Homo sapiens: one gene and its partners. Changing the gene in region 1 together with any one later gene gives a genetic interaction. Each region holds a gene or a part of one and is shown in the gene's direction. Other genes may lie near its edges.

Region 1 (3,500 bases):
CAGCTCGCGGGAGGGTTTGGAGGGTTCCCGTGTGAACTAACTATCCTTCCCTTCTTCAACAGCAGAAAGGACCCAGGAGCGATAACAGTAAATCAAATAAGATATTTGTCGGTGGAATTCCTCACAATTGTGGTGAGACAGAGCTCAGGGAATACTTCAAGAAGTTCGGAGTGGTGAGTTTCTCCCCACCCCGGCAGCACTGTGGGGACAGAGCCGCTTCTGCTCAGGCCTGGGCCTTCTTGGGGCTGGAGTGGCCGAGCCACAGGTGCACGGGCCTTTCAGGCTGGGAGCTCGCTGTCTCGTATTTCCCCAACGCCTGCGCCCTCCGGAAAGGTGGAAAGCCCGGCCTTTGCCTTCATGGCCATTTCGTGTCCCAGTAGGGTGGTTGGGCGGTGAACCAGCCTGACAGCCTTCAGGGCGGCCGCCCGATTCCATTGTGAACACCGTGGGGTCCAGTGTCAGAGAAGGGCAGTTACACAGAAACGGGGTTCAGTGTGGCCTGGGCGAGCCAGCCCCACAGAGCTGACTTTCCACTGGGCAGGTGGGAGAATGCCCGAGCTCCGTTGAGCCCAGTGCCAGAGGGAGCTGGGACAGCCGGAGGGGGCCGGCGGGGAGCCCTCCTAGTCACCCAAGGCAGGGGCGTGTGGTCACCCCAAGGTCCTGCTGGGACTCCTGCCGTGCCCCGCAGGTCACACTCCGAGCCCCGCCAGCAGGACAGCCCTGCGTGCCTGAGTACTGCGCACGTTCATCAGGTGGTACCTGAGGGTGCCACGGGCCTGGGCCAGGAATGAGAGGCCTGAGCGGGGCCTGGAAGAGCAGGGTCTGCAGAGGAGCTGTGTGTGGCTGCCCCGCCACTTCGAGTGAGGGCCGAGCGTGCCCTTTGCTTCCCGCGTTTGGGTGGGAAGGGCTTCTGTGGGGTCTCCTGGCTCCCACGTCCCCTGCTAGGATGCGTGGTCGGCGTTGTTGGCCCTTCATGTCCGTCAGCACACACGTGAGCGGGGCCACGGGCAGCCCGGAGGCGGGTATCCAGACGCCTGCCCTGGAGCTGCTTCTCCCTGCCTGCGTCTGGCCCTGGGAGTGTTGGGGCTCCAGCCTTTCTCAGACAGCAGCCCCACGGAGCAGCTGTTGCCCGTGCACCTCCCCCGCTCAGGGAGGGCGCACCCTGTGCGAGAGTTTGGGTTCGTGGGAACAGGCTGTGCCCTCGGAAGACCACCTGTGGTGCTGGCCCTGGTGTCCGTGCTGACGCCACCCTCTCCTTCCAGGTCACGGAGGTAGTCATGATCTATGACGCCGAGAAGCAGAGGCCCCGAGGTAAGGGCAGATCTAGTTTGACCTCGGCCTTCTCCCTGCTCCTCCCTCAGATGGCAAACTATCTCACCCGCCAGGCACACACAGGTGGCGGCTGTAGCAAACAGCCTCAGGAAGGGACGATTTGGAGACAAATGACTAAAACGTGGGCTCCTCATGTGCACCCCATTCAGCCTGTCTGTGCTTCCCGAGGTCAGACGTCACACATTGTTTTTTGGCTTGTTCTTTTGAAGTTTTTACGACTTGTCATGAGTCTCGGCCTGGCTTCTGTTTTTCACTGTCCGGAAGAGTGTGGTCCTTCTGCATTTGACCTTCCTTCACCCTCATCCAGTCCTCCCAGTGTGGCCGGTCTCATTTCGTGTCGTCAGCTGGGTCAGCTGGCTCGGTGTGGAGTTTGGATTTTCCGTGATCCATCCCATGCTTTTTTTTTCTTTCTTTCTTTTTTCCTTTTCTTTTCTTTTTCTTTTTTTTCAGTTTTCTCCCCTCTCTGAAGTCAGCAGGGCAGGTGGGAGGAGGGGTGAGGAGTCACCTCAGGGCCTCCCCTCATTTTCCCTCAGCTTCTTGCACACCCATCCATGCTGGTTTGTGGAGCTGGGACGATGGGCGCCCAGTTTCTGTGCCCCTTTTCCGTGGCTGCTGCTGTCTGTCCCGCCCGCCCGCATGGTTTTGGTTCATCAGCTGCTTTTGGCCGGCCACGTGAGCAGACCTGCAGCCTGGGTCTGCCCGCCACGTCCGTGCCGCCCCCGCACCACCGGCCCAGGTCAGTCGGGGCAGCCCCGAGCGCCAGGTGGCGCCGCAGCATGCCCACCATGCTGGAGCATAGTTTGCCATTTGAACCTCCCTCCCCACGGTTAGGAGTGCTCCTCCTCCATGTCGGTTACGCTGTTAAGTCTTAGTCGTAACTTAATTTAGACATACATGCTTAGTGACGTACTTAAGTGTTTCATAGTAAAGTACAGTGATGTTAAGTAAGCTGTTTTTCCTTTTCTCTCTGTGAATTGTGTGTGATTAACGATATCTCTTTAGATTTCTCTTCTCCAGGTGCTAAATTATATCACACAGGTACAGGCCAGTCCCGCAGTCAGAGGAGGGAGCGGCTTTGCTCCAGTGGGGTGTAAACGAAGTTTCAGGTGTTTCTGTCCCGCTTCCTCAGTGGTGATGTCGCCTCTTGACAGCCGCATTCCTAGACAGCGCTCAGGGCGCCTCCCCCAGGACCCAGCGCCTCTTGCACTGTGCCCGGACCAGGCGAGCCCTGTGGTTTCAGACACTCCTGCAGTTTGCGAAAATGTCTACTTCTAAATACGTTGTTTCATCACCGATGCTGTGTTCCAATACTGCCTCTGATCTTGGGAAACTTGAGCGCGCGGGAATCTGAGGGTTGCTTCTAGATCCTCCCGGTCCCCCTCCGGCTGCCCAGAGCTGGCGCCCCTTCTCCTCGCGTCCTGTCCTGTCCCGTGTGGACGGGACGTGGCGAGTGTCGCTGAGTCCACACTGGTGTACAGAGCACTTCGGGGCCAGCACGTGGCCACATGTCCTTAGCTGTTGGGCTTTGAAAGTGTCCCTTGGGTGTCAGGCGAGTGGAGGGCCGGAGAGACGCTGCGGCGCTGCTTAGCGGGTCCTCCCAGAGAGTGTGTCCCCTTCCCTTGGCCTTTCTGCATCTTCTGAGACGGGTCTGTGTCCCCCTCCCCGCCACCTCCTCCCTCTTCCTCTCCACTGACTGAAGGTCATGGCCATGTCCCTGTCAGGGACCCCGCCTGTGTCTCGGGCACACAGTGTCTGTGCGGGTCCCTGCTTGGCCCTCCCACGTCTACCCTCGGCCCGCCCGCTCCAGCCGCTGCCTCGTTCGCCTCTCAGTCCCCTCAGGTCTTCTCCATCCTGCGCTCCTCTCGCTGTGTGCCTTGCCTTCCTGGTCCCTCCTCCTCTTCCTCCTCCTCTTCCCCCTCCCCCTCCTCCTCCCCCTCCCCCTCCCCCCTCCCCCTCCGTCTGGTTGCAGACACTGCGTGCACAGTCACGCTCAGGTGCACACGTGTGCTCAGGACGGTGGGAGGCTCCTGAACCACAGTGACCTTTGTCCCCTCACAGTCTGAGCTGCCCTTTCTGCCCCGTTTCCATCTTTCCCCGCCCCCAGTTTTGCTTGTCCTGTTTCTGCCTGGTCCCAGCTACAGCAGCCCTGGCCCCTGTCTCTTCAGCTT
Region 2 (3,500 bases), 9.5 Mb from region 1:
GGACCTAGGAGGCCGCAGCAGGGGACGGCCCTGAGGCAGGGCCGGGGTCACAGTGAACTCTCTTTTTTTTTGGGGGGGGTCTCACTCTGTTGCTCAGGCTTGAGTGCAGTGGTGCGATCCTGGCTCATTGCAACCTCCACCTCCCGGGTTCAAGTGATTCTCCTGTCTCAGGCTCCTGAATAGCTGGGATCCACCACTGCAACTGGCTAATTTTTGTATTTTTAGGCCAGGCATGGTGGCTCACACCTGTAATCCCAGCACTTTGGGAGGCTTAGGTGGGCGGATCACCTGAGGTCAAGAGTTCGAGACCAGCCTGACCAACGTGGCAAAACCCCATTAGCCAGGCGTGGTGGTGGGTGCCTGTAGTCCCAGCTACTCGGGAGGCTGAGGTGGGAGAATCGCTAGAACCCGGGAGGCAGAGGTTGCAGTGAGCCGAGATGGCGCCACTACCACCTCCAGCCTGGGCAACAGAGTGAGAATCTGTCTCAAAGAAAAAAAAAATAGTTTTTTTTTTTTGGTATTTTTAGTAGAGACAGGGTTTCTCCATGTTGGTCAGGCTAGTCTCCCAACTTATGAGGTCAAGCAGTCCGCCTGCCTCGGCCTCCCAAAGTGCTGGGATTACAGGCATGAGGCACCGTGCCCGGCCCACAGTGAGCTCTTAACAGGCTATGGCCAATCGCAGCCATGGTTGGGGCGCCAGCGAAGCAGGCAGAGGGGCACCCAATGCCCATGTGTGGATGGAGGCTGTCCCTTGAGAGCAGGTCTAGGGAGGGCCCCATGGCAGGAAGACGCAGGGAAGCCCACATGGCCCTGCCCGCCTGCAGGTCTTGGTGAAGAGTAACAACCTGACGGACCGCATCGTGGTCATCCCGGGCAAGGTGGAGGAGGTGTCACTCCCCGAGCAGGTGGACATCATCATCTCGGAGCCCATGGGCTACATGCTCTTCAACGAGCGCATGCTGGAGAGCTACCTCCACGCCAAGAAGTACCTGAAGCCCAGCGGTGAGCACTGGGGGGTACACAGGCCAGGCCCCTCGGTGGAGGCCCTGGCTGCCGCTGAGCCAGGCCATCAGTGCTTCAGCTCCCTGCTTACTGTCGGTGGCCCGGGGTGTAGGGAAGCCTGGGCTTTTCCCCCGCTCCCACCCCAACCCCACTCCAGCCAGCTGTGGCTTTTGGAGCCCTGGGCCCCAAACACGGCCAGACACCCAGCTGCCCACTCGCCCAGACAGGGTACACAGGATCTCCTGGCACCTCTGCCGTCCCATGTCCTGCTCCTGCGGGACAGCCTCTGGCTGGGAGTGGGGATTGGGACAGGTTCTGTGGTCAGCAGTTCCCCAACAAGCCCTGCTCTCCTCACAGTCCAGGAGGTGGGGTGGGCGAGCATGTGTGCAAATGCAGGGGTGTGGGTGCGAGTGTACGTGTGTGAGGAGGTGAGGTAGCTGTCTGGCAAGCCCATCTGTCACTTCCCATCCGTGCCTCTGGGTATGGCCTCTGGTCACTGGGTGACTGTTTCTTTTTTTGAGACAGAGTTTCACTCTTGTTGCCAAGGCTGGAGTGCAGTGGTGCGATCTCGGCTCACTGCAACCTGCACCTCCCCAGTTCAAGCAATTTTTGTGCTTCAGCCTCCTGAGTAGCTGGGATTACAGGTGTGCACCACCACGCCCAGCTAAGTTTTGTATTTTTAGTAGAGATGGGGTTTCACCGTGTTGGTCAGGCTGGTCACGAACTCCTGACCTCAGGTGATCTACCCGCCTCAGCCTCCCAAAGTGTTGGGATTATAGGCATGAGCCACTGTGCCTGGCCTGGGTGACTGTTTCTATTTGCCCATCTGTCTTGGGGTCTGTGCAGCCCTGACGCCTGAGGCATGTGCCTGTGGCTCTTCTCATGCTAGGTATGTGAGCGTCTGAGCATTTCTGTACAGGCAAGCAGCTGTGTGTGCGTGTGGCAGGGTACAGGTCCCCAGCCAGGGTAGCAGCCATGGGATGGAGCGTGGGCAGCAGCAGGCTGGTGGGGCTTGTGCAGGCAGGGGCAGGGGGGAAGCTTCCACTCTCATCTCTGGCCCGCCCTGGATCCAGGCCCTAGGGTCCTGGCTGGCTGTGCTCCTGGAGGTGGGAGGTGGCGTCCCACAGCTGTGTCTCATGTCTTGGGTGTGAGTATGGGAAGCAAGGCTGCTCCAGGGGCTGTGGGCCCCACTCTCCTCCCCTTCTGCCCTGATGGTGGGGATGGGGGTGGGGACAGCCCCAGCAGAGAGGGCCCCTCCCGATGGGACATGAAGCCAGATGGCAGTCAGGCTCTGTGGGCAGCTGCATGTGCCCCCGACGTCCCAGCAGCCAGCTTGCAGGGAGGGGGGAGGCCAGGCCTGTGCAAGGAGGACTCCTGTCCAGCTCAGGAAGCTCTTCCAGGGGTTAAAGGCAGCCCTCCCCTCTCCCAGTCACATGTCTTCTGGTCAGCAGGAGCCAGAGGTTCCTTCCAGGCTGGGTCACTTCCCATGGTGCCCCCAGGTCCCCCAGGGCAGAAGCCGCAGCATGTGCATCTCCCTCCCCGTTCCAGCAGCTGCAGCCCTGCAGCTCTCGCCTCGGGTACAGCCTGGTGGCGTAAGGAGGAGGCAGAGTCCCACTGATACCTCAGGATCTCCTCCCCCAGCTTGCAAGGCTGGGGGGCCCACATCTGGAGGCCAGGTGCTCCTTGGGGCAGGCGGGGCTGCGGGGCCCTGATCCTCCCTGCCACTGGCCCTGACTCATGCGTCTACCCTTGAGTCACAGAGGGAGGCCCTGCCCTTCCCTCAGTCTGTGTGCCCAGACCAGGCAGGCCAAGTGGCCCATCCTGCCGGCTGGGTGCCTGTGCCAGAACCTAGGCAGTCCCTGTGGTGTGGATTTGGCTTCCCCCACCTGGCTCTTGGCCTCAACTGAGGTCCCCAGCGGCGTTGGGGTAGCCCGGGGCCCACCACCCTCCCTCTGTCCAGAGCAACTTTGCTATGCTTTCCCGGCTGCACACATGCACAGACGGCAGGGCCTGAGAGGCAGCGCCTGGCCACATCCCGGGCACTGCCTGCTTCCCCGTGAGTCTTTGGCAGGTCCCTCACACCTGCCAGGTCTAGTAATAGGACATAAAGATGAGCCACCAGCCTCCCAGTCTCAGGTGGAATTCGTGAGCTGGTGCAGGTCAGGTACCCGTGGTGGTGATGAAACACTGATCAGAATAGGCGCTCGGTGCCACTGTCACAGGAGTGCAGGAACGAATGGATGACAGGCTGGGAGCACCCAGGGTTGGGGGTCTTGGGGTCCTTTGGAAGCTCTGCCAGGCAGTGTGGGATGTGTCACCTGACGCCAGCACCCCTCCCTGCCCCACTCCCAGGAAACATGTTTCCTACCATTGGTGACGTCCACCTTGCACCCTTCACGGATGAACAGCTCTACATGGAGCAGTTCACCAAGGCCAACTTCTGGTGAGTGTGCCCTGGGTGTCCCGCCTGGGCCCCACAGCCTGCCTTCTCAGGGACA
Region 3 (3,079 bases), on another chromosome or scaffold:
TGTCTGCCTTCTTTCATTTAGCACAGTGTTTTCAAGGTTCATCCACATTGTAGCATGAATCAGTACTTCATTCCTTTTTATGGCCAAATAATATTCTACTAATTGAATATCTCAAATTTTGTTTTTTATTGACTGAACATTTCTGTAGTTTGCACTTGTTGGCTGTTGTGAATAATGCTGTTTGTAATGCTAATTAGCATGTGCGTACATCCTTTGTTCTTAATCTTAGGGGAAAGGCTTTCAGCCTTCATCTTCGAATATGATGTTAGATGTAGTTTTTCTTAGATGCCATTCTTTAGATCAGGTTGAGGAGTTCCCTTCTATTTCGACTTGAGTGTTTTTATCATGAAATGTTGGATTTTGTCAAATGCTTTTTCTATGTCTATTGATGATCATGAGGGCTTGTTTATTAATATAATGTATTACATCGATTGTTCTTTATTAATATGTTATTAATATCTTTGTTCTTTATTAATATGTATTACGTCGATTGACTTTCATATGTTGAATGTTATGATATTCTATAGAGCATATATAATGTTATTTTACTGCTTTGGTTTTATATAATATGAACCAATTTCTCTATATTTCAGGCATTTATTAATACAGCAAAAGAAATTTATGAAAAAATTCAAGAAGGAGTCTTTGACATTAATAATGAGGTATATACATATAAATATTGTTGGTCAATATTAATTTAGAGTTCACTTTTGATTACTATTTTATATTTTTTATTTTATAATTCATTATTTTATAATTTTTTTAATTCCTAAAATCAATCATGATAATCAGTTAACACCATTAGTTTACAGTCATCCAACTGAAAAATTGGTATATGTGGTATAGTAGTTAAATATTTATGTTCTAGTAGAGCAACACTTTGTCTATGGAAATGGATTAAAGTAAGTGGCCCTATCCATTCATTGCAAGCAATGCAAAATAATATAAATCCCCCAAAGAGAAAAGAAAATCCACTTTTATCCACATGACCATATGGTGTCATCTGCTTTGGGAATAATGTTCTGGTATATAAATGCATGTACTATGTACTAATGCAAGATGCTCTCTCTGTTATCTGGCAGGAAAGAGGGAAATACCAAATTTGGAAATTACTCCCAATATAGCATAGCATGTTTTCAGGAGACTAAATTCATATATATATATATAAAATTGGCATTTGGCATAGGGTTTTTTGTAATGTTATTTTGATCCTGTTTTGGTCAACATGATTAGGATAAAATGTAAAGCTTTGAAGCATCTAATTCAGAGTGTTCACCAAAGATCATCACTTGACCCACATCCCCACTCTGCATTTATCTGTATTTATTTCAAAATGTTTATGTGGATGTAGCCTACTTATTCTTACATAAATATTTTTGCCATTCTGTATTAAGATTTCTGGCTTCTGAAAGAAAAGCCCTGGTTTCTCCCCAGTTGCAGTTAGAAAAGCATTGTGTTAGGAAGCCATTATGTATGTCTCTCTCATCCTATACATAAATGAGGCTCTCTATTACTTCAGTAGTCTCTGCTCAGACAAACAGCAGTTTACCTAAGGTTTCCAAAAAGTACATGATTTTTTCATTGTTTAATTTGGAGTAATATAGTTTCTAAATCCTATCTTCTAGGCTTATATGACGGTACTTCTTGAGTTAGTTTAAAGGTGACACCATTCAGAGACTAATGCCATATAAATTGAACAGTAATTGGGCCTCTATCTAAAAGGGCACATTCATTGTTTCTGTCTGGTTTCATATAGTAGCTGACTGCTTTACTGTGCCTTATGCAGCTTTGATTGTAATGTGCTGTTGGGAGCCAACAGGCCGTGCTATTTATTTGGCCTAATGCCAAGTCTGACTCCTTGACTCCTCAAGAAGTTGCTACCAGCCCAGAGGGGGCAAAATCAATGAGCCATAGGGCATGCTTTTTATTAAAGAGGAGTCAAAAGAGCGAAAAGAAACCACATCAGCTGCTGTCAATACTGAGCTAGTGCCAGAAACCCCAAGGCTACTACTGTTGCAGAACAACTGCCAAGCACTATAAATCTGAGATTTACTGTGACGTAAAGTTTCCTTAAGAGCTTAATTTCTGAAGCTACTGTATTACTTTTCTCAAAGTGTTGTATTTTTAGGTAAAATCCACTTGAGGGAGTGAGGGTTAAGACATAAGTGTGAGTTTGATGAATGAAAGAACTACTCTGTGTGTGGGTTCTTGGCAAGCTGCCATGTCTTTGGGGATCATAGAAATTATTGATGACACAGAACACTCATATGCCCTTAGCCTGTACAGCTGATTCAACATGGAACAGAAACACTGTCTAGAGAAAAGATTTTACGTTGTATTAAAGCAGCATGGGCTTTGGGTATTTTTATGCTTTAAAGATTACTTGCAATAATTATTTTAAATGATTTCTGCATTATGAGAATTTCCTGAAAAGCAGCATTATCCAATAACTGTTTACCCCGTACCTGGTATGATAAAGAATTATTTTCAGAAACATTTCCACAGTGTTTTTAAAAGGAAGGAACATCCCTTAGGAGATATTGTTTTAATTGTTGCTAAAATCTACTTGCTGTATTTTTCTCAGTTGTTTGATAAAATTGTATCATAAAGAATTAAATGAGTTTTTTAAGAATTAGTTAAACTATATTGTCTGGTCATATTTATTGTTCTGTTCTCTTTTATTTCAGGCAAATGGCATTAAAATTGGCCCTCAGCATGCTGCTACCAATGCAACACATGCAGGCAATCAGGGAGGACAGCAGGCTGGGGGCGGCTGCTGTTGAGTCTGTTTTTACTGTCTAGCTGCCCAACGGGGCCTACTCACTTATTCTTTCACCCCCTCTCCTCCTGCTCAGCTGAGACATGAAACTATTTGAAATGGCTTTATGTCACAGAAGACTTTAATCCGTCAAATTCTTGTATAACTTTGAATAAATGGTTAATGTTCACTTAAAAGACAGATTTTGGAGATTGTATTCATATCTATTTGCATTTGATTTCTAGGTCAATTGATGTGATTATTTTTGTTAAATGTTGTCTTGTGCCCTTAACTACGAACTGAATTGTATTAAACACTACA
Region 4 (3,500 bases), on another chromosome or scaffold:
GCAGGAGGATCACTTGAGCTCAGAAGTTTGAGACCAGCCTGGCCAACATATTGAGTCCCCATCTCTACAAAAAATACAAAAATAGCTGAGTGTGGTGGTGCACACCTGTAGTCCCAGCTACTCCAGAGGCTGAGGCAGGAGGATGGGCTTGAGCCCAGAAGATCGAGGCTGCAGTAAGCCATCATCGTCCCATTGCACTCCCGCCAGGGTGACAGAGCCAGACTATGTCTCATAAAATAATAATACTAATAAAATAATAGAAATAACTTAAACCATGGGTGAAAAATTGAATTGTTCTGGGAAAAATCAAGATGTATAGTTATCAAAGTGATAAGATAATGTGCTTTTTAAACTTTACTAGATAATACCAAGTGGTTTCTCAACATGGATGTTCAAAGGTATACCTCTTTCAGCTCTGTTGCTTATTTTTCTAATGGATCATTTAGTGTGCTTTTATTAATTTGTAGGGATTCTTTATGTATTCTTCGTGTTAATCCTTTCTCAGTTACATTTGTTTGTTTCACTTTTTTTAGGTTTTTAATGATAGAACTTTCCATTTTAATATAGCAGATGTATCCATTTTCCCTTTATGGTTTGTACTGATTATGCCTAGTTTAAGAGGCTTTGCCTACTCTGAAAATATATTCTCTTATATTTTCTTCTGAAAGTTTTGAAGTTTTGCCTTTCACAGTTAATTTTTGATCCCCCACCCCCGCCCCGCCCGAGACGGAGTCTTTCTCTGTCACCCAGGCTGGAATGTCGTGCCTCAATCTTGGCTCACTACAACCTCTGCCTCCTGGGTTCAAGCGATTCTCCTGCCTCAGCCTCCCGAGTAGCAGAGTAGCTGGGATTACAGGTGCCCGCCACCACACCTGGCTAATTTTTGTATTTTTAGTAGAGACGGGGTTTTACCATGTCGGCCAGGCTCATCTTGAACTCCTGACCTCGTGATACGCCCGCCCCGGCCTCCGAAAGTGCTGGGATTACAGGCGTGAGCCACCGCACCCGGCCTTCACAGTTAAGTTTTTAACGTCCCTGAGATTGATACTGTGTCTGTGGTGAGACAAGATTCCAAGTTTATTTTTTCCCAGCTGCATGATTTGTCTACACATCACTCAAGGAAAATCGTCTCTTCCTTTGATGTGTGCTACATATTCCCTTGTGATAGTTCAGTCTTGTTTTTTTTTTTTTTTTTTTTTTTTTTTTTTTTTTTTTTTTTGAGATGAAGTTTCGCTGCTGTTGCCCAGGCTGGAGCACAGTGGTGCGATCTCGGCTCACTGCAACCTCCGCCTCCTGGGTTCAAGTGATTTTCCTGCCTCAGTATCCCAAGTAGCTGGGATTACAGGCGCCCTCCACCACACCTGGCTAATTTTTGTATATTTAGTAGAGACAGTGTTTCACCATGTTGACCAGGCTGGTCTTGAACTTCTGACCTCAGGTGATCCACCCTCCTCGGCCTCCCAAATTGCTAGGATTACAGGCCTGAACCACCGTGCCTGGCCCAATATTTCAGTCTTTATACCATAGATTTTTGATGTATTCTACATAAATAATCATACACGAAGAATGAAGGTTTGTATTTTTTTCTTTTCAGTTTTTATTGTAGCTTTTAGTTATTTTTCTTGCCTTAATCCTGCCCGAGGACTCCAGTATTAGGCAGCATAAAAATGTTGAAGAGGACATCTTTATCTTTTTTCTACTTTTAAAGAGAATGCTTTAAACGTTTCACTGTTAATTTGAGGTTTCCTTTAGGTTTTTGGTAGATACCTTTGATTGCATTAAGGAAGTTACTTTCTGTTGCTAGTTTGCTGACAGGTTTTATCTTGAGCAGATGCTGAATTTTATTAGATACTTTCTTGTGCATCTATTGAGATAGTCATGTACTTTTATTTAATCTATCGCATTAAACCAACAGTACATTTCTGGGATTACCTGAGTTTGGTAGAAAATAAATACATTGCTGATTCAGTTAGCTAATATTTCAAGATTTTTGCATGTGTGTTCATGAGTGAGATGATAGCTTCCCTTTTAGTATGGCCTTGTCAAATTTTGGTCTCAAGGTTATATTAGCCTTATAAAGTGAATTGGGTCATGTGTCTTTTTTCTTCTCTGCAAGAATTTTTGTACTGTAGGAATTATCTGTACGGAATCTTTGGTAGAATTCACTGGTAAACCCTCTGGACCCTATATTTTCTTTGTAGGAAGACTTAACTACTGGTTATACTTTTTTTATGGTTATAGAACTATCTCGTCATATATACATGGTTATTACTAGTGTCTGCTTTGCATTTGAACCTTACATTGGAATAAGATTAGAGTAAGGAAACCCTTGAAGTGAAGAAGCTATTTTGCTACAAATTATATGTCCATTCTCACAAAATCTTATGTATATAATTTATATAGATGTAGCTTTATAATATATGTATGTCTTCCCATTCATAAAAGCATCATCTAAATCACGTTTTATATCATTTTTATTTGAGCATTCCTCTTGATTTTCTAGAGAAGAAACCCTCAGATCCTTACTTACAAGCATTTTCCTGCATCTAGATTTTATTTGTGTGAAAGCAAAAGTGATCATCCTTGCCCTAAATTATTAGGGCTTTTTATTACTTTGGTATTTACTTAAGAATAAAATTTATTTTTTTATTTTCTTCTCTTCTCAAAAGTGGTTTGCAGGTATTAATGAAAATTTTGGACATTCCCATTTTATCAGTTCTCCTTAATTTACAATTTATAAAGTTTTTAAGCTTTATAATTTAGAAGCATTTTACCTTAATTTTTATTATTTTGGTGGTTTTTCTAGGCGATGTTTTTTGTTATTATATCTCTGATAAACAGATTTCCCTAAATCTTACAGGTTTAAAGCAGCTTCATCTTCACAATAGTAAGAATTGTTTCTTTAAAAAGTTTCTTCACAAAGGCAATAAAACTTTTAAAATCTGTGAGATTGAATCAGAATTAGCTTTAGAACCTAGAATTTTGTTAGGGCTGAGGGTAGATGAGACGGAGGGAAGATCCCTTTCTCTCATCATTAGCTTATATCGAAATCAATTCTTATTTCTAAAATAAAATACGCAGACCACGCTAGTGCCTTCAAGTCCTGCTGGGAGACTTCAGAGGGGGCACTGCCTCATGCTGCCTGTTTGCTCCTTGTGCCCGGCCTCTATCCCTGCACAGGAAGGACCCGAAGGAGCAGCCTTACCATGCACAGGGGGCTCCCCCTTTGGGGTTCTAGGGCAATTTGTTCTTCGGGCTCCCGGTGAAACATGGCAGGAAAAAAAACGTTTTACTCCTTTTCATTGGATTTTTTATTCATTTATACTTAACAATTATTGGATGAATGTATAAGGGAATTAGTAGCTGACCAGGCTGAACCGGAAACTTCTTCAAAATGTATAACTTGGATTATGTACTTTAAAATAATGTTTTGGGAAGGCTGACTCATTGGGAATACTATGATGGAAGTGTTGACAGTGAGAAAAGGGTAGTCTTATCTA

Evidence for each region.
Region 2: changes in DAZAP1 (region 1) and CARM1 together harm fitness less than expected from each alone (positive genetic interaction), as found in Homo sapiens cells (one large-scale study listed by BioGRID).
Region 3: changes in DAZAP1 (region 1) and RAB2A together harm fitness less than expected from each alone (positive genetic interaction), as found in Homo sapiens cells (one large-scale study listed by BioGRID).
Region 4: changes in DAZAP1 (region 1) and TRAPPC12 together harm fitness more than expected from each alone (negative genetic interaction), as found in Homo sapiens cells (one large-scale study listed by BioGRID).

What each region holds. Positions count from the first base shown.
Region 1 is NC_000019.10:1,421,086-1,424,585, forward strand, and holds part of DAZAP1 (DAZ-associated protein 1), read left to right. Parts: intron 1-62; coding exon 63-173; intron 174-1,262; coding exon 1,263-1,311; intron 1,312-2,334; coding exon of another isoform or gene 2,335-2,426; exon of another isoform or gene 2,427-2,625; intron 2,626-3,500. UniProt on the Homo sapiens protein: RNA-binding protein, which may be required during spermatogenesis.
Region 2 is NC_000019.10:10,913,053-10,916,552, forward strand, and holds part of CARM1 (histone-arginine methyltransferase CARM1), read left to right. Parts: intron 1-824; coding exon 825-1,002; intron 1,003-3,354; coding exon 3,355-3,445; intron 3,446-3,500. UniProt on the Homo sapiens protein: Methylates (mono- and asymmetric dimethylation) the guanidino nitrogens of arginyl residues in several proteins involved in DNA packaging, transcription regulation, pre-mRNA splicing, and mRNA stability.
Region 3 is NC_000008.11:60,617,987-60,621,065, forward strand, and holds part of RAB2A (ras-related protein Rab-2A), read left to right. Parts: intron 1-593; coding exon 594-662; intron 663-2,687; coding exon 2,688-2,783; 3' UTR 2,784-3,079.
Region 4 is NC_000002.12:3,382,694-3,386,193, forward strand, and holds part of TRAPPC12 (trafficking protein particle complex subunit 12), read left to right. Parts: intron 1-3,500. UniProt on the Homo sapiens protein: Component of the TRAPP complex, which is involved in endoplasmic reticulum to Golgi apparatus trafficking at a very early stage.